Homo sapiens: one gene and its partners. The protein of the gene in region 4 interacts with the protein of the main gene of each other region in a pairwise test. Each region holds a gene or a part of one and is shown on either strand. Other genes may lie near its edges.

The links.
Region 1: the proteins of HNRNPC (region 4) and HNRNPD interact in binary tests that used the Homo sapiens proteins (3 or more experiments, as listed by UniProt).
Region 2: the proteins of HNRNPC (region 4) and DDX21 interact in binary tests that used the Homo sapiens proteins (3 or more experiments, as listed by UniProt).
Region 3: the proteins of HNRNPC (region 4) and RBM41 interact in binary tests that used the Homo sapiens proteins (3 or more experiments, as listed by UniProt).

The regions. Positions count from the first base shown.
Region 1 is NC_000004.12:82,351,398-82,357,785, forward strand, and holds the end of HNRNPD (heterogeneous nuclear ribonucleoprotein D0), read right to left. Parts: intron 6,048-6,388; coding exon 5,916-6,047; intron 5,499-5,915; coding exon 5,399-5,498; intron 5,287-5,398; coding exon 5,140-5,286; intron 4,005-5,139; coding exon 3,937-4,004; 3' UTR 3,907-3,936; intron 2,758-3,906; 3' UTR 1,101-2,757; downstream 1-1,100. UniProt on the Homo sapiens protein: Binds with high affinity to RNA molecules that contain AU-rich elements (AREs) found within the 3'-UTR of many proto-oncogenes and cytokine mRNAs.
Region 2 is NC_000010.11:68,973,170-68,980,169, reverse strand, and holds part of DDX21 (nucleolar RNA helicase 2), read right to left. Parts: intron 6,626-7,000; coding exon 6,506-6,625; intron 5,501-6,505; coding exon 5,427-5,500; intron 2,642-5,426; coding exon 2,482-2,641; intron 1,329-2,481; coding exon 1,194-1,328; intron 1-1,193.
Region 3 is NC_000023.11:107,114,970-107,123,217, forward strand, and holds the start of RBM41 (RNA-binding protein 41), read right to left. Parts: upstream 3,854-8,248; 5' UTR 3,805-3,853; coding exon 3,797-3,804; intron 3,617-3,796; exon of another isoform or gene 3,575-3,616; coding exon of another isoform or gene 3,462-3,574; intron 1,798-3,461; coding exon 1,681-1,797; intron 1,276-1,680; exon of another isoform or gene 1,182-1,275; intron 1,086-1,181; coding exon 893-1,085; intron 588-892; coding exon 383-587; intron 1-382. UniProt on the Homo sapiens protein: May bind RNA.
Region 4 is NC_000014.9:21,265,780-21,274,058, forward strand, and holds the start of HNRNPC (heterogeneous nuclear ribonucleoproteins C1/C2), read right to left. Parts: upstream 3,664-8,279; 5' UTR 3,519-3,663; intron 2,890-3,518; exon of another isoform or gene 614-2,889; intron 1-613. UniProt on the Homo sapiens protein: Binds pre-mRNA and nucleates the assembly of 40S hnRNP particles. Interacts with poly-U tracts in the 3'-UTR or 5'-UTR of mRNA and modulates the stability and the level of translation of bound mRNA molecules. Single HNRNPC tetramers bind 230-240 nucleotides.

The DNA of each region.
Region 1 (6,388 bases), on a different chromosome or scaffold from region 4:
CTGGGCATGGTGGCACAGGCCTGTAGTCCCAGCTGCTAAGGAGGCTGAGGCAGGAGAATCGCTTGAACCCACGAGGCAGAGGTTGCAGTGAGCTGAGATCGCACCACTGCACTCCAGCCTGGCAACAGAGTGAGATGCTGTCTCAAAAACAAATAAAATAAATTTCTTCACCAAACCTGAATTCTCTACATAGCTAAACTTAGTAATCCAATGCAAAATAGAACTTTACAGACAGGAAGGTCTCTAACCTATTGGAAGATATCCTACACCAAACCAACAAAGCCATAGATCTAGGAAACAGATCATAAATTGAGAGGCAAAGGGAAACCCAGAACAATGGCAAAGCCCCAACTCAACAGTTACTCAACAATTCAAAAAGGGCAAACAGTTCAGATTAGAACACAGAAAACCATCAAGAAAAACATGAAACTAATTACCAAATTAATGTATATAAAAAATCTTTTTTCAATTCTTGTTACCGTTTGAAAATCAGTGTCTGCTGGACAGAAAATTATCTAGGCCAAGAGGTACTGCTAGAAACGGCTCTGAGAATTGCAATTTAAATGAGTCAGACATACAGAAACAAAACAGTACAAAAATCGGGTTACAAGTTTTTTTCAAGAATGGGTTTGATCTCCAAAATTAATCCTTAAAATTAAATCTAAGTAGTGTCTCTCATTTAGTACTAATTAACTGCCAAAAGTGCAGCTTGTAAACATTTTAACACAACAATCAAAATTAATCTGGTAGCATGTTTTTAGTCACACTAAACCTGGTTTTAATTCAATCTGTTTTTACCCCCTCCCCGCACATTTATAAAGTTTTTGATGTGAAGGCCGAACACGGTGGTTTATGCCTATAATCCCAGCACTTTGGGAGGCCGAAGGAGGAGGAGGATTGCTTGAGGCCAAGAGTTCAAGACCAGCCTGGGGAACATAGCAAGACCCTGTCTCTACAAACAATAAAAATATTAGTTGGGCACAGTGGTATGCGCCTGTAGTCCCAATCACTGAGGAGGCTAATGAGGAGCACTTGAGCCCAGGAGTTGGAGGCTGCAGTGAGCCACTGTACTCTAGCATGAACGACAGAGGGAGACCCTGTCTCTTAAAAATAATTTTTTATTGAGAGATTTACATAAAATAAGCATATGATACCAAAAAGAACCCTAGCTTAACAACCCTAACACAAAAAATTTTCATTTATTTTGACCATGAGTCAGCAAACTTTTCTGTAAAGGGCCAGACTGTAAATTATTTTGCTTTGCAGGTCTCTGTCCTAACTACTAAACTCTACCACTGTAACACAAAAGCAGCCATATACAAAACATAAACAAATGAGCATAGCTGGGTTGCAATCTTATAAAAACAGGACACAGGTCCTCAATTTGGATCTATCATAAAAAAACTTTAATAACACTAACTTTTGCTCATTAAAATGTTTGCTTAGTTGGAGGTCAAATTCTTAGCATCAGATGTAACTCCACAAAAGTAAGAAAGGTATTCCATCACTTCACTACTATAGAACTGTATAATAATACATTTCTCATTTGTTACCTTTCTAATGAACTATTCTGAGCAGTCTGAAGTAACTGACTGCACAGCCTTAGATTACCACTCAGGGTGGAACTCTTAACATTCACTTAAGTAATACCTACAAACGATTTTCCATTCAAGTTGATGGGTATCAATTCCCTGAATGCTAATAACAGAACTCAAGAAGCTTCCAACAAATGACAGGAAAAACAATTCTGACTTAATCCTATAGTTATCACTTAGACTCTTCAGTTTCACTTTCTTAAGAGTGACTCAAAAAGTTCCTTAGGCACACATACTAATAATCACAGTCCTGAAATTTTAAGGCCCTAACCAAAAAAATAAAACCTTTGAGAAATGGAAAATAAAATCATTCAAACAAATAAGCACACACACATAAACACGGTATATATTTCTTTAATCCTCCCTCAACACTTGAATTCATCTATGAAGTCCACCACAGCTCTAAAAATCTCTCTGAACTAGCCGCATTTCTATTATAATTAACAGATTTTAAGTCCTTTTTATTTAATGGAAGCATAAAACATTAACTATCTGTGCAAAGGGGTACTTTTGCACATTTATCCAGATTTGTTCTAAAAAGCACAATACATATTAAGCAAAAACTGGGCATTTGGGAAAATATTCATATAAATCTTAATGGCTACATAAGGAAGTATTATTAAAACAACCAACAAACAAATTGACATTAAGTCATTCCCAATTTGGACAGGGAGGACACATTATGGCAAAAATTAGATTTTGCTAAAAACATTTCAAACTTCACTGCAATTTTAATCATGTCCTCAATTTCGGCAAGCCTGTCTTCCAAACTTATGCTTTTAATAACTTGAATCCATGACAATTTTTCCTATTCTGATGATAAAAGAGCCAATACATTTTTATACAAAAGGATTTATTAAAAAACCAGTAAGACACTACTACATCATGACACTGTCACACTGGGCTTTTAACACAAGACTTGCTCTACAATACTGGGGGAAAGGGCATAAAACACAAATTGATTCTGAAGCATAGCAATTAAGAAATAAAACAATGAAAGCAAATTTCTTTTAATGAGAACTCAGAATTAAACTTCAGAGGGACCCAACGTCATACTTCCATTCAGGGACTTGATACAAAAAATTTAGTTTGAACTGCTATTAGCAGGTGGCAGGAGCCACCTTCAAATGAATCTTCAAATTGGAAAATACTGCTTCACCACCTGGAGACAAAGAAGAAAAAATAGAAGTCACTCTGGGCAGGCTACAACACTTAACAAAAATTTACATAAAACTGAGTTATCCCTATGTTCCACTATATGTAAATACTGTATAACATTAAATGTGTGATATGTTTTATAAATTAAAGCTGAACAGTAGAGTCCATGAGCTGTAAATCCACATGTGCACCACTGGTTTAAGATGTGATATGCTTTTACAAGTATTCTTTAAAATATAAAAAGCTTTAAAGTATTTACCCAAAGAACTCATAAAAAGGTCAATTTGGTAAAAGGACATTTTGACCCAAGAGCATCTAATATTTAAGCTTATTTTATTGGATAAGCATATCTCTTGTCCATCACAAGTTATAGAAAAGTTATATACGACTAAAAGAAAAAGTTATCTACTGTAATTATAGGAAGTTGTCACAACAGGAATTCAGCTCAAGAACTTCTTGCAATTACTGCTACAACGTCTATAAATGGGAAAAGCAAGCATTAAAATAGATTAATAAAATATAAAATTAAGACTGGAAAATCCAGAGACAAGCTGTATCCTTAGAAGAATAAATAGTTAAAATTATTCAGTAAGCTGACGTATTTAACCATTACTGGGCCTGTAAAAAATGCATTAAAATTACATTACAAATAGTTTTTAAAAAGCAAAGAAATAAGTGAAGGCAAAGCTTGAAGTATCCATTTTATTTTATAATGCTGATACAGGATGTTGGAAGAGACCATACCAAACGGCAGCATTCGAGAGCGTGAGCATCTCGTACCCTGTCCGCATTGAGCGGGCCTGTGAGAATCGTGAAGTCAGCGCGACACAGGGCCTGCAATGAAGTTCCCGCTGGCGGGTACAAACAAGGTATAATGTCAGAGTTAGTAGGCAATACTTTTTTGCTGCAATTCCTTAATTTGTACCCATTAGCAGTACTTTACCTGTTAACTTTACTGACTTGTTAATAATAGGACAAAAAGGCAAAAGCTTAAGAGCACCTGTGTTACATATCTTTGAAAGTCACTATGTTATAATATGGTAAGCACTTCTGGGTGCTGTGAAACTCTTAAATTAAGCATTGTTTTATGAACAATATAGATTATAAAAACTACTATTGTAAATGACAAAAAAAAACTATTTTTAGAACATACCTGTTGGGGATAAGTTGCAAATGGAATAATTTAGTATGGTTTGTAGCTATTTTGATGACCACCTCGCCTGGATACCTTCCCATAACCACTCTGCTGGTCTAAAATAAAACAAGTGTTAGAACCAGAACGGTAGTGGTTACATACTAATAATCAGAACAGTACCTAATTTTAAACAATCTCAAAAAATTAAGGGTAGCTTAATTCCCAAGTGTGAAAAATTCACCCTGAGCAATCATTTATCAAATAATTTACCAAATATGTAGTGAATGCATACAATGGCAGGCATTCAGAATGAGCTGATTACTTGACTTATTGTATAAAATGGGAGACAATCCCCTCACCCTTACAGTTTAAAAGTTTTAAGTTTCAAAGGATGGACAGCTGACCCTTTCACAACCACCAGCAAAAAATATCTTAAAATTTAGAACAAATTGTCAACCACAATCAGTGCTTAGTATCTCTGCCCTTCTAAGAAAAGGGCCCCAATCTCACCCAATCCATCTTTGCTGACCTTCTTCTGACTTTAATTAACCTATTATTGTGCAGCAGGCCTAGTCACCTAAGAAAGGATATAACTCCAAGAACTGGTCTAACCAAGGAAGGAAAAGAAAAACCACTTAAAACAATGCAACCAATGCAACCACTCTCCTCCAAAAAAATGTAAGATTGCTTCTAGTAGAACCCTTTACCTGACGACTCAACAGTTGCTACAAATCAGGTGGAGAGCAACTACCTTAGTTGCACAATGAAGTCAGGGCTTTCCATGTCTAAAAGTCAAGTTTTTTGGTTCTATCAAGCTCAACATCTGTTTTAAGAGTTTCTACATTAATAATCCTAAAGCGAGGATACTATTAGTTTTAACTGGCAACATGTGGTATTATTCAGTTTTATAGGATTAAGACACATCATGCCAAGATTATTGGTTGGTCCAAGAAGTGACATTTAGAATACCTTGAGCTTAAAAGATCTGAACTGAGCTTAAAATTTTTAAATCCAAGTAAAACAAATGCCCAGCAAACATATATAGAACCACACATACACCCTACCCTTATAATGTGTGTGTGATATAGGCTGGGAGGAACCAAGCAATAAAATGGCTGCAGTTTCAAGTTTCCAGGAATTTGAAACCTGAAGACATTTGCACTTGGCAAGGCTACACTAACCTTTCTGCCTATCCAAATTTGTACAAAATAAATGTCAAATAGCAGTTAATATAAAAAGTATAGTACTTACTGCTATAATCACCATATCCATAGTAGTTGTTGTAACCAGTGTAGTCATATCCTCCATAACCACCGTAACCTTGGCTGTTATATCCATAGTTGCCATAGCCTTGATTCCAATAGTTACTATATCCCTGGTTCCAGTTTTGACTGGGGCCTGCAGCACATTAATAGGTTCACTAAAGTCAGAAGATCAGCAAAGATCTTTACTTCAGGATAATTAAAAAGCAGAAAAGCTTAAGATAGAGTAAACTTAGGCTCTAGCTTACCACCACCTCTTCCACGAGCTCTTCCTGCAAATCCTCCTCTAGATCCCCACTGTTGCTGTTGCTGATATTGTTCCTTCGACATGGCTACTTTTATTTCACACTAAAAGAGAAAAATTACATTATTAAACTGACTCAAGAAAATAAAAGTTGCTAAATAAGTTTCTAATAACCAGAATAGCCAACATGTTTAAATAGAGTAGGCTAATTTGAAACTTTCCTCAGTCAGTTTATTAATTAAACCAATATTTAGTACTTAAGAGTAATCACTTATGAGTACTTGCTAGTGATGTTACTTCATTTTACTTGTCAAGTTCTAAAAACTATTTTTGTGAAAGCCTAGACAAAAACACTAACAAATGTGTCCATCCTGCTCCCCACAAAAAGTTGGTCAATGGTAAGTAACCAATGAGAAGTTTTTAAAGCATGCAAAGAACTTAAGCCTTTACAGAGAAAGATAAATGGTTAAGCTCTTTACAACAGCTAGTTTTCTCTACAAGTAAATGGATGCTTAACTTACTTTACTAAGACCAACATTGTGGTATTTCTTTTCCATTATCTTCTTCACTGGTTCTTCTTCCTTAAAGGTAATAAAGCAGAACCCACGCCTCTTATTGGTCTTGTTGTCCATGGGGAGCTCTATGGATTCCACCTGGTATTAAAAAACAAATTTTAATATGCTAACATGCATTTTATTGACCTTAAAAGAAACACAAGTTTAGAGGGGGGAAAACACACAAAGAAAACATGTATTTGGCACTGAAGTTCTAGTCTCCTGTTTCTCCCTATTTATTCTAATCCTTTTAAGGAATTCTTCAAATTAGAACACCCATTCCATCTAAGGTCTTCACAACTATTTACAAAAATAAGCTTTACCACGCACTGACATTTACTACCTAACTCAAGGGTCACAAATTCAAATGCCCACAAAGAACAAGAAGAAAACAGTCAAATCTAAGAAAAACAGAATAAAAATGTATTTGAGAGAAAACA
Region 2 (7,000 bases), on a different chromosome or scaffold from region 4:
CACCCGGGTTCAAGTGATTCTCCTGCCTCAGCCTCCTGAGTAGCTGGGATTACAGGCATGCGCCATTATCCTCGGCTAATTTTGTATTTTTAGTACAGACAGGTTTTCTCCATGTTGGTCAGGCTGGTCTCAAACTCCCGACCTCAGGTGATCCGTCCACCTCAGCCTCCCAAAGTGCTGAGATTACAGGCATGAGCCACGGGGCCCAGCCGAAAGATTACTATAAATAGTAGGTTCAGCATGCACTGAGGATGAGATAAAGCATGGTGTACTGGGCACTGCTGGAGTAAATGGTGTTGGTAGCAATGAGGTAGAAATTAAGCTGTAAGGTTAGCAGAGGCCAGGACATGAAGGATCTTATCCTCCTATGAAAGGGTTGAGACTTTATCCCACAAGTTTTGTGGAGTTGCTTAAGGAGATAACAACATGGCTAGACATGCAATAAGTTGAAGATAAATCCGATTAGTTCACTAGGCCAATGGAAACCTGGAAACCTGAGATCTTTTAGGGGCTTCGCCAAGTCAAAATTATTTTCATAATAATGTTGCCCTTTCCACACTCATTCCCTCAAGGGTACAGTGGAGTTTCCTAGACATATATGACGTGATAAAATCATTGCTCTGATGACTAATGGAACATGATATTGTGTTTTAGAGTTCCAGTTTTAATTTCTAATACAGTAAGTATCAATAGATATAACCCATGTAAACAAAAGCTTTTGGGGGTCCCTAACATTTGCTAAAGGGATTGTGAAACCAAAATGTTTGAGAATCCTTGTGATAGTCTATGGCATAAACAAAGAGAAGGCCTCAGAAGAAAGAACACCAGGTTTGGGAGGCAAATTTTTTCATTTTTAATTTGAATTCAAGATTCTGAATAAGTCCAGTGCTAGAATAGCATTGCTAAGAAAAAAAAAGATTCTGAAAAAGTTACTTTAAATAAGCTATTTAGGTAGAGATGTCAGGGAAGCAGCTGGATCAAGTCTGGCATTGTGAGAACGGTTCAGGCTGGAGATAGAGGTACAGTAGTTGTCAGTGGCAGAGTGGCATCTGAGGATCACGGATGAGATTACCCAGGGAAGATGAGAGAGTGAAGAGATGCAGCATCCCCACAGAACAGGAAGAACCCACACCACACTGTTTTCCTGCCCACATAAAGCCCCATCAAGGTTACAACAGAGACCCCAGCCTTACCAGCTTTCCTTTGAGAAAAACCATTCCCTTCACTTTGGAATCAATCTCCTCGCCCAGCTGCTCTTTAAGTTCTTTCCAAGCATAACTAATATTTGGCATTTCAATTGAGCACTGCAAGATCATGGTCACAAAACCCTTACAACACAAGAAAGGAGAATAAAATTAAAGTGCTGAAAATAAACCTAATTGATAAATACCTGCTTTTGTGATTCTAAAATATTTCTTGAAAAGTTATTCCTAAAAACATACATCTCACACAAACAATTAGTACGAACAGTCCCTCGTTTTACTTGGGGAACTCTGAGTAAGACTGGTTGATTGTACCAATGTCAATATCTTGGTTGTGGTATTATAGTTTTCCAAAATATTGCCATTTAGGGAAGCTGAGCAGAGTATACAAAGGATCTCTCTGTATTATTTCTTACAGCTACATGTAAATCTACAATTATCTCAATAAAAATTTGAATTTACAGGAAAAGAAAAGCATACACCTTCTAAAGTTTCTAGGTATGCTGGCTAAATGTATTATATGCATTTATGCGCATATATATGTTTGGGCTACTTTAGGATTAAAACAATTAAAAATCACATACCACAAAATTCACCATTTGAAAGTATATAATCCAGTGTTTTTTTTGTTTGTTTTAGTATATTTGTAAGATCTGCAACCATTCAGCACTATCTAAAATTTCAGAACATGGCATAATCCACCCAAAAGAATCCTGCATCCATTACTAGCCACTGCCATTCCTCCCTCCACACAGCCAGTCAGGACCACTCATATTTTCTGCCTCTATGGATTTGCATGTATGTGTGTGTGTGTTTAAACATGGGAATTATTGGTTCTTTTCTTTTCTGAGACAGAGTCTCACTCTGTCACCCAGGCTGGAGTGCAGTGGCACCATCATGGATCTCTGCAGCCTCAACCTCCTGAGCTCAGGTAATCCTCCCTCCTCCCATCCCAGCCTCCCAGGTAGCTGGGACCACAGCATGTCACCACGCCCAGCTAATTTTTTTTTTTTTTATTTTTTTGTAGAGACAGAGTATCACTAGGTTGCCCAGGCTGATCTCAAACTTGTAGGCTCAAGCCATCCTCCTGCCTGTGCCTCCCAAAGGGCTGGGATTACAGGCATGAGCCACTGTGTCTGGCCAGAAATTGTAAAATACAATTAATACTTTACTAACTTCATGAGAAAATGAAAACAACTGGGAAGCTTAAATGAAACCCTTTCATATCCTGCTCATACCCCAAATTATGAAGTGTCAGGAATGTGCTGCAGAACCTTACCACATTTGAGTTGATCAAGGAGCGCTGGTCTACGGACGTGGCACCTGAAATATGGGCCAGTGCTGCTGCCAGAGCTTCCACAGCTCCCTTCTCCTCTATCAGCTTCTCAGCTGATTGTTTGAAGTGACTAATGGCAGTGGGAGGCACGGAATCCAAAAGCCTGTTGTTTGAGAGTGTGTTAGGAGAAAGGATACTAGAAGTGGACACATTTCATTTCTAAGACATCTCAAGATAAATGAGTAACTTTCCAAATCTTTCACATGTGTAACATATTTATTTTTGATGCAGTATATAATAATCATATTTCTATAGTAATAAATCCATTCCTTTGACTGTATGTAATTCTAATTTATCACCTACCCCACCATTTTATCCTAAGGAAATAATAAAACAAGAAGTTCACCACGGTGTTACTTATAATACACAAAAAGTACAAACAATTTTAAAATGTGCATCATTTGGGCTGCTTATATAAGCCACAAAACAGACATAATAAAATGTCATACTACCATTAGATGTGATGATGAATTATGTCAAGAGTTTTTATACAAGAAGCATGTGTTACTTTTAGGATCAGAAAAAACCTATTTCCATTCTGAAGTTTAAAAAAAAAAGCTGGGTGTGGTGGCACATGCCTGTAGTCCCAGCTACTTGGGAGGCTGAGGTGGGAGGATTGCAGTGAGCTATGACTGTGCCACACACAATCATTTTAAGAAACTCCGTCTCTTTAAAAAAAAAAGAAAATAAAAGAAATAAGAAAAAGACCTCCAAAGTCAGTTTAAAAAATGATAAGGACCTTTATGGGACTATTTGTACATTCTTAAGGGGGTCACTATTATCTTGGCAATAATAAATGTCCCATTCAAAGTTGAAAAAGATCATCCAGTAAAAAGGGGAGAAAGTGACATGCAGCCGTGTCAGGGCTGGCACGCTGGAGGCTGTTTGTTGTATACCACCAGCATCTTTGTCCCATTCCCCTTCTTGGCCATCTAACCCCAACTCTCCTTAACTGGCACCCAAGGGAACCCTGTCTGTAGGACACTTAAAAAAACATGCCATGCTAAAATAAATTTGAAAAATGCAGTTAAAATACACTCTTCCAGGCTGGGTGTGGTGGCTCACGCCTATAATCCCAGCACTTTGGGAGGCCAAGGCGGGCGGATCATGAGGTCAGGAGATTGAGACCATCCTGGCTAACACGGTGAAACCCCGTCTCTACTAAAAATACAAAAAATTAGCTGGGCGTGGTGGCAGGTGCCTGTAGTCCCAGCTACTCGGAAGGCTGAGGCAGGAGAATGGCGTGAACCAGGGAGGCAGAGCTTGCAGTGAGATGAGATTGCACCACTCCACTCCAGCCTGGGCAACAGAGCAAGACTCTGTCTCAAAAAAAAAAAAAATACACTCATCCTTCCTTTCCTCCCTTCCCTGTCTTCTTTCTTCCTTCCTTCCCTCTTTCTTTTTTTTGAGATAGTCTCACTCTGCCACCCAGGGTGGAGTACATTAGCACAACCACAGCTCACTGCAGCCTCAACCTCCTGGGCTCATGCAATCCTCCCATCTCAGCCTCCAGAGTAGCTGGGACTACAGGCACTTGCTACCACATCTAATTTTTGTATTTTTGTATTTTTTTTTTTTTTTTGAGACAGAGTTTTGCTCTTGTTGTCCTAGCTGGGGTGCAATGGTGTGATCTCGGCCCACTGCAACCTCCACCTCTCGGGTTCAAGTGATTCTCCTGCCTCAGCCTCCCAAGTACCTGGGATTATAGGCGTGCGCAACCACGCCTGGCTATTTTTTTGTATTTTTAGTAGAAATGGGTTTTTTCCATGTTAGCCAGCTGGTCTTGAACTCCTGACCTCAGGTAATCCACCCGCCTTGGCCTCCCAAAGTGCTGGGATTACAGGTGTGAGCCACCGCACCCGGCCTAATTTTTGTATTTTTTATAGAGATGGAGTTTCACCGTGTTGCCCAGGCAATCCGCCTACCCCAGCCTCCCAAAGTGCTGGGATTACAGGCATGAGCCACCATGCCTGGCCCAAAACTCTTTCATTAACAAAACTTTCCTGAACTATTAATATGCTGATTGACATCCAGGATTTCCTTTGATCATGGACTCCCTGTGTCTGTTTTTTAAATAAGCATTTACAGTAATTGTGAAAACTACTATAAAAATGATGCCCAAACTCAGTGGTTCTTTAACAGAGAACATAGGTCACCATCAGGAGGCATCTGGAAAATGGTTTCTGGTTTTTATAATGCCAACCCTACTTACCCTGAGTATGTGGCACAGGGGAATCAGCCACGGATCCTAAGCAGCTAAATATCCTTCCATTTGCAGGACAATCCCATAAAAAATAATTCTCTTGCCTCCAATGCCAGCAGCACCTCCATTTGACAAACTGTTAATTAACCTAATCCTCACCATCTAGACATTTACTATTAACGAAGCAATCAACTTTCATCCTACCAGGGAAGGAACTGGATTAATGTAGATTTGGAATGTAATCTGTGGTCTAATCAGCCAGTGGGTGAGAAGCACCTATACTATACCTAAGATATTATCCCTTAAAATATCCTAGACAAAGCAAACTATTTTAATAGTGGTTTCCTCTGGTAAACAGGATAGGACAGGAATGAGTAGAAACGAGGGTATCCACTTTGTGAAATTCTACTTCAGCACGGTCTGGTTTTTTTTTGATAAACAGGTTATCAGTTAAAAAGAATAGGCTGTGCATGCTGGCTCACACCTGTAATCTTAGCACTTTGGGAGGCTGAGCTGGGAGGACTGCTTGAGACCAGGAGTTGAGACCAGCCTGGGCAACATAGTGAGACCCTGTCTCAAAAATTTTAAAAAAAAAATTTTTTTAAGTCAAATCTTATTACTGTACAAAGACATGCAGTATTTGAACCAACACTAAAACAGACCATAGCAGTGGTAGGGAACATACCTGATGGCATCTTTGCTGGAAGCTTTTATTATTTCTGTTGCAGAAGGAACACCTATTCGTTTGAACTTAATTCCCTACAGGAAAATGAACCACAGTTTAATGTACAGTGGCCATCAATTGTTTCCAATAAGATAAGCAGTCCCCTAATTTTTTAATATAGGCCAAATGTATGTATTACATTAAAAAATGAACTTTTAATTTTAGACTTACAGAAAAGCTACAAAGACAGTACAGAGAGCTCCAGGTTTCTGCTATTATTAACATCTTACACTGTTAATGTATATTTGTTTCAACTAAGAAACCAACATGGCTAAACTATTAATCAAACCCCAGACTTTATTCCATGTCTGTCTTTCCTTCTTTCCTTGTTTTTCATGACTTTGACAGTTTTAAGGAGTGCTGGTCAACAGTTTTGTAGAATGTCCCTCAGTTTGAGGTTGTCTTGTGTTTTCCTCATGCTCAGGGTTACATATTTGGGGGAGGAATACCCGAAGTGAATGCTCGCCTTACCACCTCTTATCAGGGGCACATGGCTATGTGCCTATCACTAATGATGTGACCCACGATCAACTGGCCCAGGTAGTGTTTGTTCATCTCTCCTCGGTAAAGTCCTCACTCCCCACCTTACTCTATTCTTTGAAAGCAAGTCCCTAAGTGCAGTCCACTCAAGAGGAAGGAGACGAGTGAAGCTCCTGAAGGGGCAAGAATCTACATACACTATTCCAATTCTCCTGGAGGAAAAATTAGTCTCTTCTCCCCTTTATCCTTTTGACATACCCTCATTCATTTGATTTTCAAGCAATTCCTACAGCCCCTCAATCTTAATTATCTCTGGTTCATATTTATCATTGTCTGAAAACTTCCTTTCAAACATATGAAAACAAAATCACTGTTTTCAAATGCAAAGTTACTTCAGAATGGGCCTTTTATCACAGGACAACATATGTACCTAACAATAAGCTTTCAGTCATTGCCACACACTAGAAATAAAAATATTTTAAAGTGGATAAAAATTGAAGAAACCAAAGACTGACTTTAGAACTCAACATTTGCTTAATGAAAGGTAAGAATAGTTTTACCGCTTTTTGCTCCACTTGTACTAACTGATATTCTTCCTTGTGCTGATAAAAGCAGATGCACACCCCCGTCCTTCCAGCTCTGCCTGTCCGCCCGGATCGATGAATGTAGGACTCTACATCCTATTGAAGTAAAATACATGAGTAACACTAAACCAAAAAAGAGAGACAAACACCTGAGTAGCCTATGCAGGTCAGTGAACACTAGCAATTGTGGTTATAAACCTGGGGACATGAGGGAGAAGGTCCCTTAGCACTTCAATTTAAAGACCTCTGGCAATTTTTAAAGCTTCTAGAACAATGGTCCCTGTCCTGCAGGCAAATTTACAAAGAGCATTGTCTAAATAGTGCTTGTCCATTAGAGGCATATATGTAATTCCAATTTTCAGTCTTCCAGTAGACAGACTGAAAAGATTTCTTTAAGAAGCTTAATGTATTTTAACTCAATATATCTAGTCTTTTTTTTTTCTTTTGAGACAGAGTCTCACTCTGTCACTC
Region 3 (8,248 bases), on a different chromosome or scaffold from region 4:
CCTTAGACACACCAGGTTCTTTCATAATCCTGTTGCTATTTACTACCTTTAATCTCCATTCCCCTTTATTTACCTGACAAATGCCCATTGATCCATCAGGAGTTAGTATAAATGTCAACTTCTGACTCCCCCAACTAGACTTAGATGCTCTGTGTTCTGCACTACCTCAGCATTTTATTCAAATCTCTATAATAGCAGTTTCCATGTTGTCATGCAACTAACTGTGCACATATTTGTCTCTCTTATGGTATTATACATTTCTCAAAAGTAGTGACAATTTGTCTTTCCCCTATTCCCTTCACTAACTCTTCATATTTAATGCCCTGCTGTTTAATCTTTCTCTCAGTGAAAGAATATATCAAAGTCAGTGGGGATCACATACCTTGGTAATAAAGAGCCTTAAGGAAGGAGTGACGATCAGCTCCCTGAAATAAAGACTTTTCTATTTCCATTTCTCGCCGGGTCAGCTGTTTGCTCTTTGCAAATCTCTGTGGCAGGCAAAGAATGCGCTGACGCTCCGAGATCCTTTCTTCAATATCTTGAAGACGGTTCTGTATTGCTTCAGGAGTTGCCCTCAGTTTTGTCTTCTGAAACCAGAGGAATGAGATGGCATGTATCATAGAGGGCACAACCTGAACATGATGATCTGGTATCTCAAGTAAAAAGATGACCTAGGCCCAGAAATGAATGTTTACAGAAAGTGTTAGCTAAGAAGTTAAAGAACAGCTTCTCTTTTACCAATGTCTGCATTCTAAAAATCAAAGAAGATTCAGACACCAAGCTCAGTTTTGTGAGAACTAGAAATGAAAAGGCTCTCAGTGCTAAAATGAAGATATTTTGCTCTGTTTCTTTGAGGAGAAAAACCAACAAAAAAAAACATTACCCCACTCACCTTTTCACCAGAAACATGGCTCTTCCAGATCAAGATTTCTGTTTCATTAAGCCCTAATTCCCTGAGAGAAGCAGTTTCCTGGTCCTTCTCATGCAGTGTCTGGAATTGGGACAAAGTCATAGTCCCAGCTGCTTCCTTCCCAAAGGGCTTGTACATAGTACCAGGAGCAAAGCTCTCTTTCTTAGACATACATCTGCAAAACATGCAGGAGGAGAGTAAGAACATCTTGAGGTTACTATCATTCACAAAAATGGAGGTTCAGCACTGTAAGAGGTACAATGAAACTCACCAGCAAATTTTCTCTTACATCTTATTTCTAAGCTGAAGCACCACTGCAACAAAATGGAACTCCATCGAGAGTGCCGTCATCCAGGAATAATAAACTAAATCAACAAATATTTATTGAGTACTTACTATGCATCAGATACTCTGCTAGGTACTAAGGATTTAATAGCTTTATAAAAAAGATAAAAATGGCTCCTGCTTTTGTGGAAAAACAGTGGAACAGAGGCAAGTAAACAGGCAATGATAATATTGGGTTACAAGTGCTATGTTAAGGGAAATATGGGATGCTGTAGGAGGACATAAAATAGGTACTTGGCTCAGACTTAGTGAGATATGGGAGGCTTCCCAGAGGAAGAGACACAGAATTAAAACCCTACCTAATACATTGAAGTCTAACAAAGAAAGGGAGGTGGGAGAGGAACATTCCATCTAGGCTTTAAGAGAGATCTGTCACCTGGAGGTAAGAGTCTATGATACTCTCCGTTTGCAAAATCAATACCTACTCCTCAATGGAGACAGAAGTATCAAGTTGATGCTGAAGGAGGCTTTTCAGCTGCCTCTCCCCTTCTGTTTCCAGCTCCTCCAGGACATGCTCATCACTCTTCACACAGCTGTTTACCCTGGAGTAGACATAAGAATATATACAGAAAACGGAAGAGACTGTGAGTCTCAAAATATATTCCTTATCTATATTATCTACCATTACTGACCCCATTTATTCAAAGACACTTCTCCAACAATTCATTGCCCTTTACCATTTAGTCCATGAACACTTACTAAATACCTGTTTACACAGAAGGCACTATGCTAGGTACTGAGGGAAGTCAAAGGTGTTTAAGACATAGTCCCTATCCTCAAGAAGCCCACAATCTATTTAGGGAGAAGAAGTGTGTGTTTATGTGTTGTGTGCATGTGCCTTGGCAGCGGGGGGAGGAGAGAATAATAACACATAGAAGCATATGCCAAATTAGTAGAAATTCACAGAAGAGAAAATTGGGAGATAAAGGTGGTAAAGGAAGACTTCAGAAAGGTACTTTTAAGCTGACATTCAAAGGTGTGTGATGCAGAAAAGGAGAACAGGGAAAGAGAGTACAAAGGGATAGTAATATATACTGAAGGATAATAAGAAGTAGTAATTTATCAAACAGTTAAGTGACACAGTGCAAGTGATGGTTTAGACAGATGAATGTGGTTATAATATGCCATAGAGATTCAAAGGGAAGAAACAAGAAGAACTAGTTATGAAACTACTGAAGTAAAAGGTGATGAAGGTCTAGACTGAAATGGTAATAGTGAAAATGGAAAGAAAGGGTTAGATGAGAGAGGCCTTTTGGAGGCAGAGGCAAGGAAGTCAAAGATAATCCCAAAATTTCAGTCTGTGTAACTGAGAGAACAATGGTACCAATGAAGGAAAGACAAAGCTCCAGATGGAATAAATGATTTGGGAAAGGGAAAGTCAGTATTGTTTTAGCCACATTGAGTCTAGTAGCTTTTACAATAGAAACGCCAGCATGAAGTATCAGGAATACTTCAAATACATGACTAGGAACATTTTGTTTAGGGATAAATTCATATGTACTAGAAACTATTTGCTTTTTTAAAAGCAAGGGAATTAATAACACAAAATTCCGGATAGTGGTCACCTCAGGGGGGAACGAAGGGAGGGAAGAGACACAGTAGACTTCTAAGGGACTGGCAATGTCCTATTTCTTAAGCTTGTAGTGGATGCGAACCTTTATTATTCTTTAAGCTGTATATATACATTATACATTATTTCGCATGGAGGAGATATCATAAAAAAATATTAAAGGTTAGTTTCAGGCAGGCAAAGTCATAAACGGTTTTTTAAAAGATGCAAGGAACTGACAGTGCAGGAAAGCATATCAGTAAGAATTTTAAATGCACTGCACTATTCCAGAGTGATGATTCTACTTGCAGAGTGAATCTAAAATTAATTTAAGCCCGTCAATAGTTAGGAGGCTCAGGCCATTTAGGCTCAAGCGGCCATTTACCTCAGGACAAGTAAGGGGAACTGAGCCCAGCAATGCCTTCCACCTCCCCTCCCCCCACCCCATAAATCGAACCGCTTTGGTGCTGTCCTTCCACATTTAGAAACAAAGTACCGCTCCCTTACTTTAAGATTCGAAAGCGCTACATGGTTTCGGGGCCCAAGCAAGTAGTCTTTAACACACAGACGTTGCAAATAAATGCGCCCGCCCCGAGCCTTTCTCAGGTGGAGGTGGAGGTAGGGGAGAACGGCGAGGGGCTGGCCCGAGGTACCTACATCTCCGGCGCCGGGAATTTGTCAGCCTCAAACCCTTTTGCCCAGCTGGGTCCGGGTGAAACGACGAAGCCGCAGCACCCGGCCAGCTCCCGGGGCCCGTGCCGGGAGGGCATTCCCACAGCAGCCGGCCCCGGTGGCAGCCCTTCCTGAACTTCGCTCTGCAGGCCTGTTCAGCCCGTCTCCCCTCCTCCCGTCTCCTTTGTCGTGTTCCCGCTCCCACGAAACCGCATCCTGAGAACGTGCAATACCCAAACCAGAAAGCAATGGAAGCCATTTTCAAAAGAAAAGGTAGAACAAAGCTCCCCTTGCCGCCTGCTCTTCAGACAAGTCCTTACCTCTTCATGTTTCCACAGGCCCCTACCTCCAACTTGGGTAAATAGGCCGCGGACCTCAAGTCCCAGAACTCCGCGCGGCGGACTTCTAAGGGTATTGTGATGGAGCATGGGGCTCTGGGAATTGTAGTAGCACAGAGCTATGGCAACAGAAAGAGAAAGTAGATCTCAAGTGACAGGTATGCTGAACATTGTCCAAATATTTATTTTGAATTTCTCATTTAGGTTCAAAAGAAGACCCAAAATATCCAGCTCATAAAACGAGTCACCTTTGACTTCTTGATTCTCTCATCCATTACCACTAATTCCTGGCTCTTCTGTAATTTCCTTTGAACTTATCAACACTGCTTTTCTTTCAAGGATTTATCCAGCCTACCTACCGTTTCCAGTCGAGCCTCTGCTTCATCCTTCACGATGTAGCCAGAGTCATCAGACACGAGTCTGACTATATCACCTGTACTAATGGTTCTCCTCTATCTGTAACAGAGACTTGAGAGTTTTCTCCACTCAGAATCAGAAGTCTGTGTATGTTCAGGCCCACATATGTTTTATTGATAATTATGGTGAATCAAGAAAGAGGTATAGTATAGTGGTTAAAAGCATAGGCTCTTAGTTTCCAGAAATGGAAATGCAAATGTCTTTAAGTGTATGAAAAGATGTCCAATCTCACAAATTTTAAAGTACACTGACTACCAGTACTCCTTAAAACTAGCAAGGTCATCAAAAACACAAGAATCTGTCACAGCCAAAAGGAACCAAAGGAGTCATGATGACTAAAGTAATGCAGTATCTTGGATGGGATCCTGGAAAAGAAAAAAAGACATGAGGTAAAAACTAAGGAAATGTGAACAAACTATGCTCTTTAGCTAATAACAAGGTTCGTTAGCTGTGACAAATGTATCAGAGTTATGCAAGGGAAACTGAGTTGTACGTATGTGGAACTTTGTACTATGCAACCTTTCTGTATCTAAAACTGTTCTAGAACTTAAAGTTTATTTTTAAAAGTACATTAAACTACCATTTTTCACCTAACAGATTGGGAAAGATCCAAAAGTTTGATAACACACTTGTTTTATTGAGATTGTGGGGAAACGGGCGCTCTCAATACACTAGTGGTAGGAATATAAATTGGTACAACATCTATTGGGGGCAAATGAGGATACTACTAAAATCATAAATGTACATTCCCTTTAAAGCAGCAATTCAGTTATGAATAGAATCCTCAATACTATATATCCTCTAACCTACTATCATTCCTTGCAACATTGTTTATGAAAACAGAAATGAAAATATCCAAGAACATACTATGAAAATGTATCATTCAATGAAAAACTATGCAGCAGTTACCAAGATGACAAAGTTCTCTATGAACTGCTACTAAACAATCTCCAAAATATAGTTAGTGCAATAGCAAGGTGCAGAACGATATGTATACTATGCTTCTATTTGCATAAAAAGGGGAGCTCTAGTCACTTAAAAACATATATATGTGTGTTTGCTTGTATATGCACAAAATATGTTTGGGAGAACTTACAGACAAATGATGAGTGAATGCCTCCAGGTAGGGGAACTGGATGGCTGAGGGACAAGGGCAGAAAAAATTCTTCACGTATCTTTTTGTGCCCTTTGAATTTTGAACCCATGACTACATTACCTAGTCAATACTTTTTTAATTAAAGAGAAACCCTCTTACATCTCAAGAAGCCAAAGAAGAAAAGATTGTAGGTAATGGTGGGGGGCGGGGCACACTACTTGGATTTGAATCTCACTTCTCAGTTGACAGTATAGCACGACAGGGTTTTAGAGGCAATCTGGACTTGAATTTTTGCTCTGGTAAGTTACTAGACCATGTGGGTTTCAGTAAGTTTCTTAACTGGTCTAGGCCAGTTTTCTCATCTGTAAAATGAGGATACCTCCTAAGTATAGGGTGACTGTCAAGCACATACAAAGGTATGGTTTTAAAGTTATTCCATGATTGAGTGGTAATCTATGAGTAAATAGTCAAATGTTAATCAGTAGATTTAGACTTATCCAAACTGCTTTGTATTTCCATGCTCAAGTTAGAGCAAAGGACCAAAAAGCAGCTACTGAAAAACATTGTAGAATTTCCTGTCCTGAGAACTTCTATCAGATTGAAAATGTCATGGTGAGCTACCTAAGACCTGTCACATGCAAATAACTGTGCTCTTGAATCATAAAGGTGAATGACTGCAGGCATAGCATGTACCACTTTGTAGCTTTGGCACAGAACGTGAACTGAATATAAGTATAAACAAAACGGGGGGTCACATCATTGCCTGCACCAGGTAAATCCTATATGGTGGTAGAGCTGAATTTTGTGGCTCAACCAATCTGTCCCAATTGACATATTGACAAGGAAATGGAAAAATACACCAAGGTTGCTAGTGTGCTTATCCCCTGGGACGGTGGCAAAGGATGGAACAAATATTACACCAACCATCACACCAAACTTGTGTACAACTTCTAATAAAACATATAGCCTATTGATACTGAAATGATACACACTACATTGCAAATCCACTAGGTGGGATGAGTGGAGAACGAATAGCTAAGATACATATTCACATAGCTGTGGAATTGCAACTGGAAAGCAAGGTCATAAGAAGTACTCTACATACCTGTGTATAACTGTAACCAGCGCAAGTGATAGGTACAAACAGACAAACATTCAGAAAATTACACTAAAAAGAAAACCAGGCCATTTCTAATTCTGCCAAACTTGTTAACTGTGTAATAATAGTTATTCTGTTTCCCACAACATTCTTCTCCCCAGCTTAAAAGGACATCAGACAGTGTATACAAAGCCTTGGAGATCTCTAGATGTTATACATGGGCACAGAGATCTTACCTAATTTCACAATTTTACCCCTAGAAGAATTTATGACAAACCGAAAAATATGCCTCATTTGTCTTTCTGTCAATTTAACAAGGTTAGTTTAATTAATCCAGAAGCTCCTTCTTAACAGAGACACATTTTCTGAGTTTGTCCTTTTTAGGTGCTTTGTTTGTGGCACGCTTCTGAAGACTACATTATGAAGCAGTTATGATTCCAAGATATGGAAGAAGATGTTAAAACCAAAAATCTTCTCTTGAATCTACTCACCATCTTATATTAAGAGTAAACAACTGTGCAAGTCTTTCAAATTTCCCAAATGAAATAGCATAAATGCTGTTATAGAGAACAAATATAGCATCTTTTCAAAGGATTAAAAAATGGGTATGTACTGGGATAGTGTCAACACTTTAAATTTAAGAATTCTTCAGCTAATATGTCAGCTGGTTAACAATGGTTACGAGGGGCTGAAGACTCCAGTGCCTAACATAAATGATGCTTTAACATTACTGGTAAAAATAGCTTATTTCTGTATTTCTGACCTTTTAATTAAGATTTGTCAACGTGACTGGGCACGGTGGATCACGCCTGTGATCCTGGCACTTTGGGAGGCCAAGGCGGGTGGGTCCTTTGAGCCCAGGAGTTCAAGACCAGCCTGGGTAACATGGCAAAACCCCATCTCTACAAAAAACTCAAAAATTAGCTAGGTGTGGTGGTGTGCACCTGTAGTCCCAACTACTTGGGAGGCTGAGGTAGGAGAATCACTTCAGCCCAGCAGGCAGGGGTTGCAGTGAGCCAAGATCACGGCACTGCACTCTAGCTTAGGTGACAGAGCAAGACCCTGTCTCAAAAAACAAACAAAAAAAAATTGTTCAACAATGTCATTTCTTTACATGTTAGAAATGGTCAGGAAGAATCTTAGAGATGATTTATGATTTAGTCCAATGTACAATTCCAGACAGTATACTGAGATCACCCTGTAAGTCTTAATAACATTACTAGATCAATCTAGAAGCCAGTTGCTATCCTCTGGCATCTTCTATGTACTAGGAAAAACACTAGAACTCCCACTGAAGATAATGTAACAGTAAGATAGTATAAGCAGTATTGTAGTCTCCTTTTTCTTTATTTTACTTAGGAAATATAGAGTAAGCACTCTACTCACAGTGAAAAGACATAAAGGAATCTCAAAACTTCAGAGAAATGAAAACCAGTTCCTTCTCACAAAACAGTTTGGGAAACCCTAATATGATCCAACTCTTTCATTTATGGACAAAGATAATGCCCAAGATGAAATTATTTGTCCAGTTAATTAGGCAGGAACAAGACTAGAGTCAGTGTTTCTTCTGATAAACTATATTTTCATTACTGAATGTAGAACTTGTACACAGGCTACTTTACAAGAGTTGAATCTCCAAAAGCAATGGGAAAAAATGTCTTTAGTATTACTCTTATCTACAGTATAAGAGTAATAATACTGAACTGAAAAATTAGAGATTACTAAAGATTATACTTAAAAGTTGTGTATCTACAGAAATAATTCACAAGATTATATGAGTTCTGGATTATTTTCACATTCTATAATTCTGCGTGGTTACAAA
Region 4 (8,279 bases):
AAAAAGTATCCTTACCTAAAGCTCAGAGATAGTTTTAGAAAAAAAGTATCTCTAGGTTATTCTTTGTCAAAACCTGCCTGAGGTTTGGATCCCTTCTTCTAAAGGGGCACCTCTCAGAATGAGTGATGCATGAGCATCATCACCTGGAACTTACTAGAAGTGCAAACTCTCAGGGCCCACCCCAGACTTACTTAATTAGAAACCCTTGTGGTAGAGATCATAGCAATCTGTTTTAACTAGCCCTATTGATTCTGGTGTTGGCTAACGTTTGAGAACCACTGTGAAGATTTTAAATTGGGAATCTCTCTATTCCCCAGTTTAGAATCAATTATTATCATTTTTTTGAGATGGGGTCTCACTCTGTCGCCCAGGCTGGAGTGCAGTGGTGCGATGGCTCACTGCAACCTCCACCTCCCAGGTTCAAGCGATTCTCCTGCCTCAGCCTCCCGAGTAGCTGGGACTACAGGCGAGCGCCAGCACGCCAAGCTAATTTTATTTTCAGTAGAGATGGGGGTTTCACCATGTTGGCCAGGCTGGTCTCAAACTCCTGACCTCGTGATCCACCCGCCTCAGCCTCCCAAAGTGCTGGGATTACAGGCATGAGCAGCCACACCCGGCCTTAGAATCAATTCTTTAAACAAAATGCCTGACCTTCCAGTGTACTGTGACAGAATCAAGTTAGAGCACCAAATAATGTTTTCCTGATACAATATAAATAAATCCAAAAACACATAACCTATGATAGTAAATGTACCAAAGAAACCTTTTTTCCTTTTATGTTAATAAACTCAAAATTTCCAATATCGAGAATACCTGTAGTTATGCTACACCTCAAAGTTCTGGTTCTCACCAATCCTCTAGTAAATCTAGTATGCACAAAACCAAAACCTTCCCATTTCCAATGAGAATACATGAATATGCATATTAAGAGCAAATAATGCTCCCCAGAGACAACTACTAATAAAGTACTTGAAGACTGAAATAATGTGGTTAAGAATAGTAATAATAACTACCAATTTAGAAAACCGGGGCCGGGTGCGGTGGCTCACGCCTGTAATACCAGCACCTTGGGAGGCCAAGGCAGGAGGACTCCCTGAGCTCAGGAGTTCGAGACCAGCCTGGCCAACACGGTGAAACCCCGTCTCTACTAAAAATATAAAAATTAGCCCGGTGCGGTGGCACACGCCTGTAATCCCAGCTACTCGGGAAGCCGAGGCAGGAGAATCGCTTGAACCCGGGAGGCGGAGGTTGCAGTGAACCGAGATTGTGCCACGACATGCACTCCAGCCTAGGGCGACAGAGCGAGACTCCGTCTCAAAAAAAAAAAAAAAAAAAAAAAAAAAAAAAACAAAACTGCTTTTAATAAAACTCAATCTGTACAGTTTTTAGGCTTCTGGCAACAAAAAATTTGAATTAGAAACTAAAAATTCAAATAGGTTTTAAAAAAAAGTCTAAGTCCCCTTATTTGCCTAAGGAGGATTAAAATCTATTTCTCCTAACTCCTAGGCAAACTTACTCCCCAGCCAACACCTCTCACATTCAACACTTTATTAAGATTTAATAATTTGCCCCTTAGTCTTTAAAATTAGAGCAACTAGCTATTTTGGAGTTTATTCTTTGCTTGTTTCGCACAGCCATTCCATCCAAAACAAGGTCGAATGCCATGTCAAATCCTCTAGAGATTTAATTACAAACGTAAGCTGTTTAAATTCTCTACAGAAGGAACATCAACCACCAAGTATTCCCGAGAGTGGCACTAGCATGAGGGGGAAAAAAAAGGTCAGAAAACCTGCAACCTGGCCATCCTTCTTCAACTTTTCCCCCTAGCCAATATGAAAATGTTACTAAACGCCTATCTAGTTGAGAACACACCTAGAATTGTGATATAAATACCGTGGCAAACAGTTTCGGATATTAACTCAAAGAATTTTTGGTGCGCTGATATACATACTGACCGGAAGGAACCCATTTTCGAAAACCTCAAAGAAAAGTGCCCGTCAATCAATTTCAACTACTATTAACAGTTCTTAAATACTAATTTCTGACATTTCTCCTTGCCAACATTTTTACTTCATGATTTCCCATTTTTACCCTAACCTCATTTCTAACAGTTCAGCACAATGATAAACTTTAGTTTTAAGTTCCTGTAATAATATACATGTTTAAGCCTTAAGAAAGGGGTCGCGATGTTTTTGACCCTTATTTTACTTCCTATCAAATAGATTGCCTTACAGATGAATTTCTTACCCTGCAGAATGGGTTTAAACTGTGCTTAACAGCTTTAGTTTTTGTGAGATTAACAGATTGTGAAAAATAAACTTAGCCAAATCTCATGTGAGGATTAAAAAAAGCGATGTCCCAGATAAGTCAATGTGACACTAAAGATCTAAACAATTTTTTTTAACTTTTAAGTTTTTTATCAAATTTCAGCACCCAGCAAATAATAGGCACTGTTAATATTTGCTTAATATAACGTAGCTGTGAATTTTTGCCCACATTTAGGCGGACGGGAAAATTAACGCCAGAATATCCCGAAAGTCAAATTTTGTCATCTTACACTTAGGAAGTTACGTTAAAAAATTCTCAAGTCTCGTAGTATTTTTCTTAAGCGCAATTTGGGAATTTCCAGTTACCTCGTGGTTTCCGTCATCAGGTTCTTGGCAAAGATTGCAATACAGTAGTTTTAGAACTATATTAACTAGGTATTCCATTAACTAGGTAAAAACCACTCGACTGACCTCGTGGTCAAATTCCTTACTAGTGCTGCTACTGACTTAATATGACCCTAGCAACCAACACTTTTCTGCCTCAGTTTCCGTCTGAGAAAGAGAGTTAATACCTACCTCAAGCAAAGTTCCACTAACTTATATATTTCAAGTGTTTTGTAACCTGCAGATGAAAAGTCAGCTGTAAATATTAATATAGTTATATCACAATATTTCCTTTTACAAATGTAAGTGAAAATAACTACTTCGAGCTCCATCATTTGCTCATAGAGAGAAATAAAATAAAAAGTTATCAGTAAAATGCTGAATCTTTTGTTAAACCTTTCTCGTAGGCCACGCGGCACGATCCAGGATTTAAAGGCTCGCGATACATCTACTTGGTAACCTTCCCCCTTCCCCTCCCCCACTTTTTACATGTAAGAAGAACGGAGGTAATAGAAGGCATCGGCGCTACGTTAACTTCGACTATATTAATGAGCATCACGATCTTCATTTTCATGATCCCGTAGTCCTCGCGGTCGTAGAAAATGAAAGGAAAGCAGCCGTTAACACAGGAAGAGCGAAAAAAGGACATTTTCCCTGGCGATCGTGGCCTAGAGGACACCAGGTTAAACCTATACAGAGGCTGAGGCCTATAAAACTGCCCCCGGCTTCAACCTAATCCCCCAAAACAAGCAGAATAAATGAGGGCCCGGTTAGTTAGGGGGAAGGATTCCCACATCTTCTCTCCCACACCCCCTCTCGCTTCCCGAAAAACCCAGCGCCTTCCCTGCGTCCGCCCTCTCCACTTACCAAGAAGGGGAGGGAGAAGAGATTCGATTCTGAGTCTCCTACTCCCGGGTTCTGCGTAGAGAAGCCGACTGCTGCTGGAGGTCGGCAACGCGGCCACAACCGCTCAGTCTTCGTCTCTTCACAAAATGGCCCCCGAGTCTCCTCTGCCGCCGAGGCGAAGGCCTAGTCCCCGCCCCATTCCTGAGAATCTTCCTATTGGCTGTGCGTTTTTTCGCTCCCGCTCCTAATTAGACAGTTCAACCGCTCCTCACAATGATATCCAATCACAATTAGCAGTGGGTTAGACTAAGCAGGCGAATTTCCACATGCGTGAGAGAAACTAGTTTATAACTGGTTAGTTTTCCTGTCATTTATTGCCTGGAGAATGCTTATTGGCTATTGCACGGGACGACCCTCTGGGTGGAAACTCGCCTTTGTATCGCGCACCGTCTCACATCCGGGTATCTGGGAGGCCTGATTGGCGGCCGCGGCGTCCTATCGCTGCCCCTTAGAGTGCCTAGTAGAAGATCCGCCCAGACCTCGGATTTCCGGCTGCGCGGGGGCGGGGAAAGGGTTGAGGGGCGTAGTTAGGTGACGGGCGCAAAAGACCTGCCCCAGCCCCGGGCCTAGGGAAAAAAAAGCGCGAAATGAAGCCTCCGTTGTGCAATGTGAATAAAGAAAGGACTTTTCTTAAAATGAGGAGGGAGCAGCAGTGACTAGGCCTTGTTAAAGTGTGTAGAAAACTAACCAGTCCTGCAGTTTTTCCAACCCCAGACCCTTTCTCAGTTCCAGATTCGAATGTCAGCTACCTCGTAGACATCTGCTTCTTGGCCTATTAAACCCTTCTTCAGACAACACATGTTCCATCGAAACCAACTGACTTCCTTATTCCTCTCCAATATAAAAAGGAAGTGCAGAATCCTGGCCTCTGGCCCCAGGGCATCTAATATCTTAAGTGCCAGCAAAATTGGCCCATCCTTCCAAATCTGGTCCCTTAATTTCCCTCCTCTTGAAATGGCTTGTCTCCTACCTACCCCCGTCACCTGCCAGTCTCTCTGGTTACATTATAGGAACTGCGCACGCAGTGGGGTAGCATCAGCTCTACTAAGCCAGCGGTTTCTTTTTTCTTTTCTTTTTTTTTTTTTTTTTTTTTTTTTTTTGAGGCAGAGTCACTGTCGCCCAGGCTGGAGTGCAGTGGCGCGATCTTGGCTCACTGCAACCTCCGCCTCCCGGGTTCAAGCGATTTTCCTGCCTCAGCCTCCTGAGTAGCTGGAACTACAGGTGCGCGCCACCATGTCCAGCTAATTTTTGTATTTTTAGTACAGATGGGGTTTCGCCATGTTGGCCAGACTGTTCAGGTGATCCGCCCGCCTCTGCCTCCCAAAGTGATAAGATTATAGGCGTGAGCCACCACGCCAGACCACTTTAAACTATTTTAAAAAGCAAAGACGAAAAATATGGGAGAAAGTATACACTAAAGTGTTAGTAGTGGTTCTCTCCTGGTGGGAAAATTACATGTGATTTTTTTTTTTAACTTTTTTTTTTTCAAACGGAGTCTCGCTTTGTCACCAGCCTGGAGTGTAGTGGCGCCATCTTGGCTCACTGCAACCTCCGCCTCCTAGGTTCAAGCGATTCTCCTGCCTCAGCCTCCCGAGTAGCTGGAACTACAGGTGCGTGCCACCACGCCCAGCTAATTTTTGTATTTTTAGTAGAGACGGGGTTTCACCATGTTGGCCAGGATGGTCTCCATCTCTTGACCTCGTGATCCGCCCGCCTCAGCCTTCCTAAGTGCTGGGATTACAGGCGTGACCCACCGCGCCCAGCCTTAAAATCTTATTGTACTTTTCTATATTTTCCAAATCATCTACTTTGAGCAAGTAATCAGAGGGAGAATATCCTACGAGTGCTTAAAGCCTCGACTCAATTGCCACATTGCAATTTATTTAAAATTATCTCGTAGCACTGTGGGTAGTTTTACACTCCTCTCCCTTCCTGGATGGTAAGATTTTTTGATGGCAGAGTTTAATTCTTACTCTTCAATATATTTTCCTTGTTTACTACCTATTAATAAATTAATAAAATATTAACCATTAACTTTTATTTATCAGGGGAAATTTTTATTTTTCCAGGACAAGCAGATAGACTGTCCTTTTTTTCTCTCTCTTTCTTTTGAGATGAGGTCTTGTTCTGTTGCCCAGGCTGTAGTGCATTGGCATAATCCCGGATGATTACAGCTTCAACCACCCAGTCGCAAGCAATCCTCCCACCTCAGCCTCTGGAGTAGCTGAGACCACAGGTGTGCACCACCACATTGGCTAATTTTATTTTTATATTTTGTAGAGACAGCGTCTTACCATGTTGCCCAGGCTAGTTTTGAACTCCTGGGCTCAAGCATTCCTCCCTCCTTGGCCTCCCAAAATGCTGGGAGGCACCATGCCAGCCCTGTCTTTTCTTTCTTTTCTTCTTTTTTTTTTGAGACAGAGTATTGTTCTGTCGCCCAGGCTGGAATGGAGCGGCGCAATCTCGGCTCTCACTGAAAGCTCCGCCTCGCCGGGTTCAGGTCATTCTCCTACCTCACTCAGCCTCCCGAGGAGCTGGGACTACAGGCGCCCGCCACCGCGCCCGGCTAAATTTTTTTTGTATTTTTAGTAGAGACGGGGTTTCACCGTGTTAGCCAGGATGGTCTCGATCTCCTGACCTCGTGATCCTCCTGCCTCAGCCTCCCAAAGTGCTGGGATTACAGGCGTGAGCCACTGCGCCAGGCCCTGTCTTTTGTTTGTTGTATGTTTTATGTAGCACTTACTCAGAGAGGCCTGGAGTCTGTCGGGTCTGGTTGACATGTAATTTATGTTATTATTATTACTATTATTTGAGACAGGATCTCACTCTGTCGCCCAGTCTGGAGTGCAGTAGCACCATCAAGGCTCACTGCAACCTCGATCTCCTGGGCTCAAGAGATCCTCCCACCTCAGCCTCCTGAGTAGCTGGGACTACAGGCGTGTGCCACCAGACTCACTAAGTTTTCTAATTTTTGTGGAGATGGGGTTTCACCGTCTTGCCCAGGCTGGTCTCAAATTCCTGTGCTCAAGCAATCCACCGGCCTGGGCCTCCCAAAGTGCTGGGATTACAGGCTGACCCACGTCTGGCCTCTTGACTTAAGTAAACAAAACTGTCTCAAAAATAAAATAAAATAAAATAAAATTTTATAGAGCTCTCTCGTTTTAGCTAACACTGCTTTATACTTTTTTTTTTTTTTTTGAGATGGAATTTCGCTCTTGTTGGCCAGGGTGGAGTGCAACGGGGCGATCTCGGCTCACTGCAGCCTCTGCCTCCCAGGTTCAAACGATTCTCATGCCTCAGCCTCCTGAGTAGCTGGGACTACAGGCATCCGCCACCATGCCTGGCTAATTTTTGTATTTTTAGTAAAGATGTAGTTTTGCCACGTTGGCCAGGATGGTCTTGAACTCCTGTGCTCAAGCAGTCTGCCCGACACACCTCCCAAAGTGCTGGGATTACAGGCCTGAACCACCGCACCCGGTTAATATCTTTTTTTTTTTTTCCTGAGACCGAATCTTGCTCTGTCACCCAGGCTGACGTGCAGTGGCGTGATCTTGGCTCACTGCAACCTCCGCCTCCCACGTTCAAGCGATTCTTCTGCCTCAGCCTCCCGAGTAGCTGGGATTACAGTCGCCCACGACCACGCCGGGCTAATTTTTGTATTTTTAGTAGAGACGGGGTTTTACCATGTTGGCCAGGCTGGTCTTGAACTCCTGACCTTAGGTGATCCACCCACCTCGGCCTTCCAAAGTGCTGGGATTACAGGCTTGAGCCACCAAGCCCGTCCCCAATATCATTTTTAAAAACCAATCCCCTCTTCAAGACATTGAAGTTGTTTCCAGTTTTTCAGTATCATATATCAATTATTTTATTATTTTATTTATTTATTTTTGGGGGGTGGGGGTGGGGATGGAGTTTCACTCTTTCCCCCAGGCTGGAGTGAAGTGGCACGATCACAGCTCATTGCAATCTCTGGAGCGGTGGCTTACGCCTATAGTCCCAGCACTCTGGGAGGCGAGGTGGGTGGATCACCTGAGGTCAGGAGTTCGAGACCAGCCTGGCCAACATGGTGAAACCCTATCTCTGCTAAAAATACAAAAAATTAGCTGGGCGTGGTGGCAGGCGCCTGTAACCCCAGCTACTTGGGAGGCTGAGGCAGGAGAATCACTTGAACCCAGTGGGGTGGAAGTTGCAGTGAGCTGAGATTGCGCCATTGCACTCCAGCCTGGGCGACAGATTGAGACTCCATCTCCAAAAAATAAATAAATAATATGAACAAACAGGCAAAAAAAATCTTTGATCACAGTCCAAGTGTGGCGGGCCATGCCTGTAATCCCAGCACTTTGGGAGGCCGAGTTGGGCGGATCACCTGAGGTCGGGGAGTTCGAGACCAGCCTGGCCAACATGATGAAACCCTGTCTTTTCTTAAAATACAAAAATTAGCCAGACGTGACGCGCACTTGTAATCCCAGCTATTCGGAAGGCTGAGGCAGGAGATTCATTTGAACCTGGGAGGTGGAGGTTGCAGTGAGCCAAGATCATGCCACTGCACTCTAGACTAAGGGACAGAGCAAGACTCCGTCTCGAAAATTAAAAAAAAAAAAAAATCCTTGTCCACAAAGCTTTAGAACTGGGAGAGATAGCTGGGCGCGGTGGCTCACACCCATAATCCCAACACTTTGGGAGGCCAAGGCAGGAAGATCACGAGGTCAGGAGACGGAGACC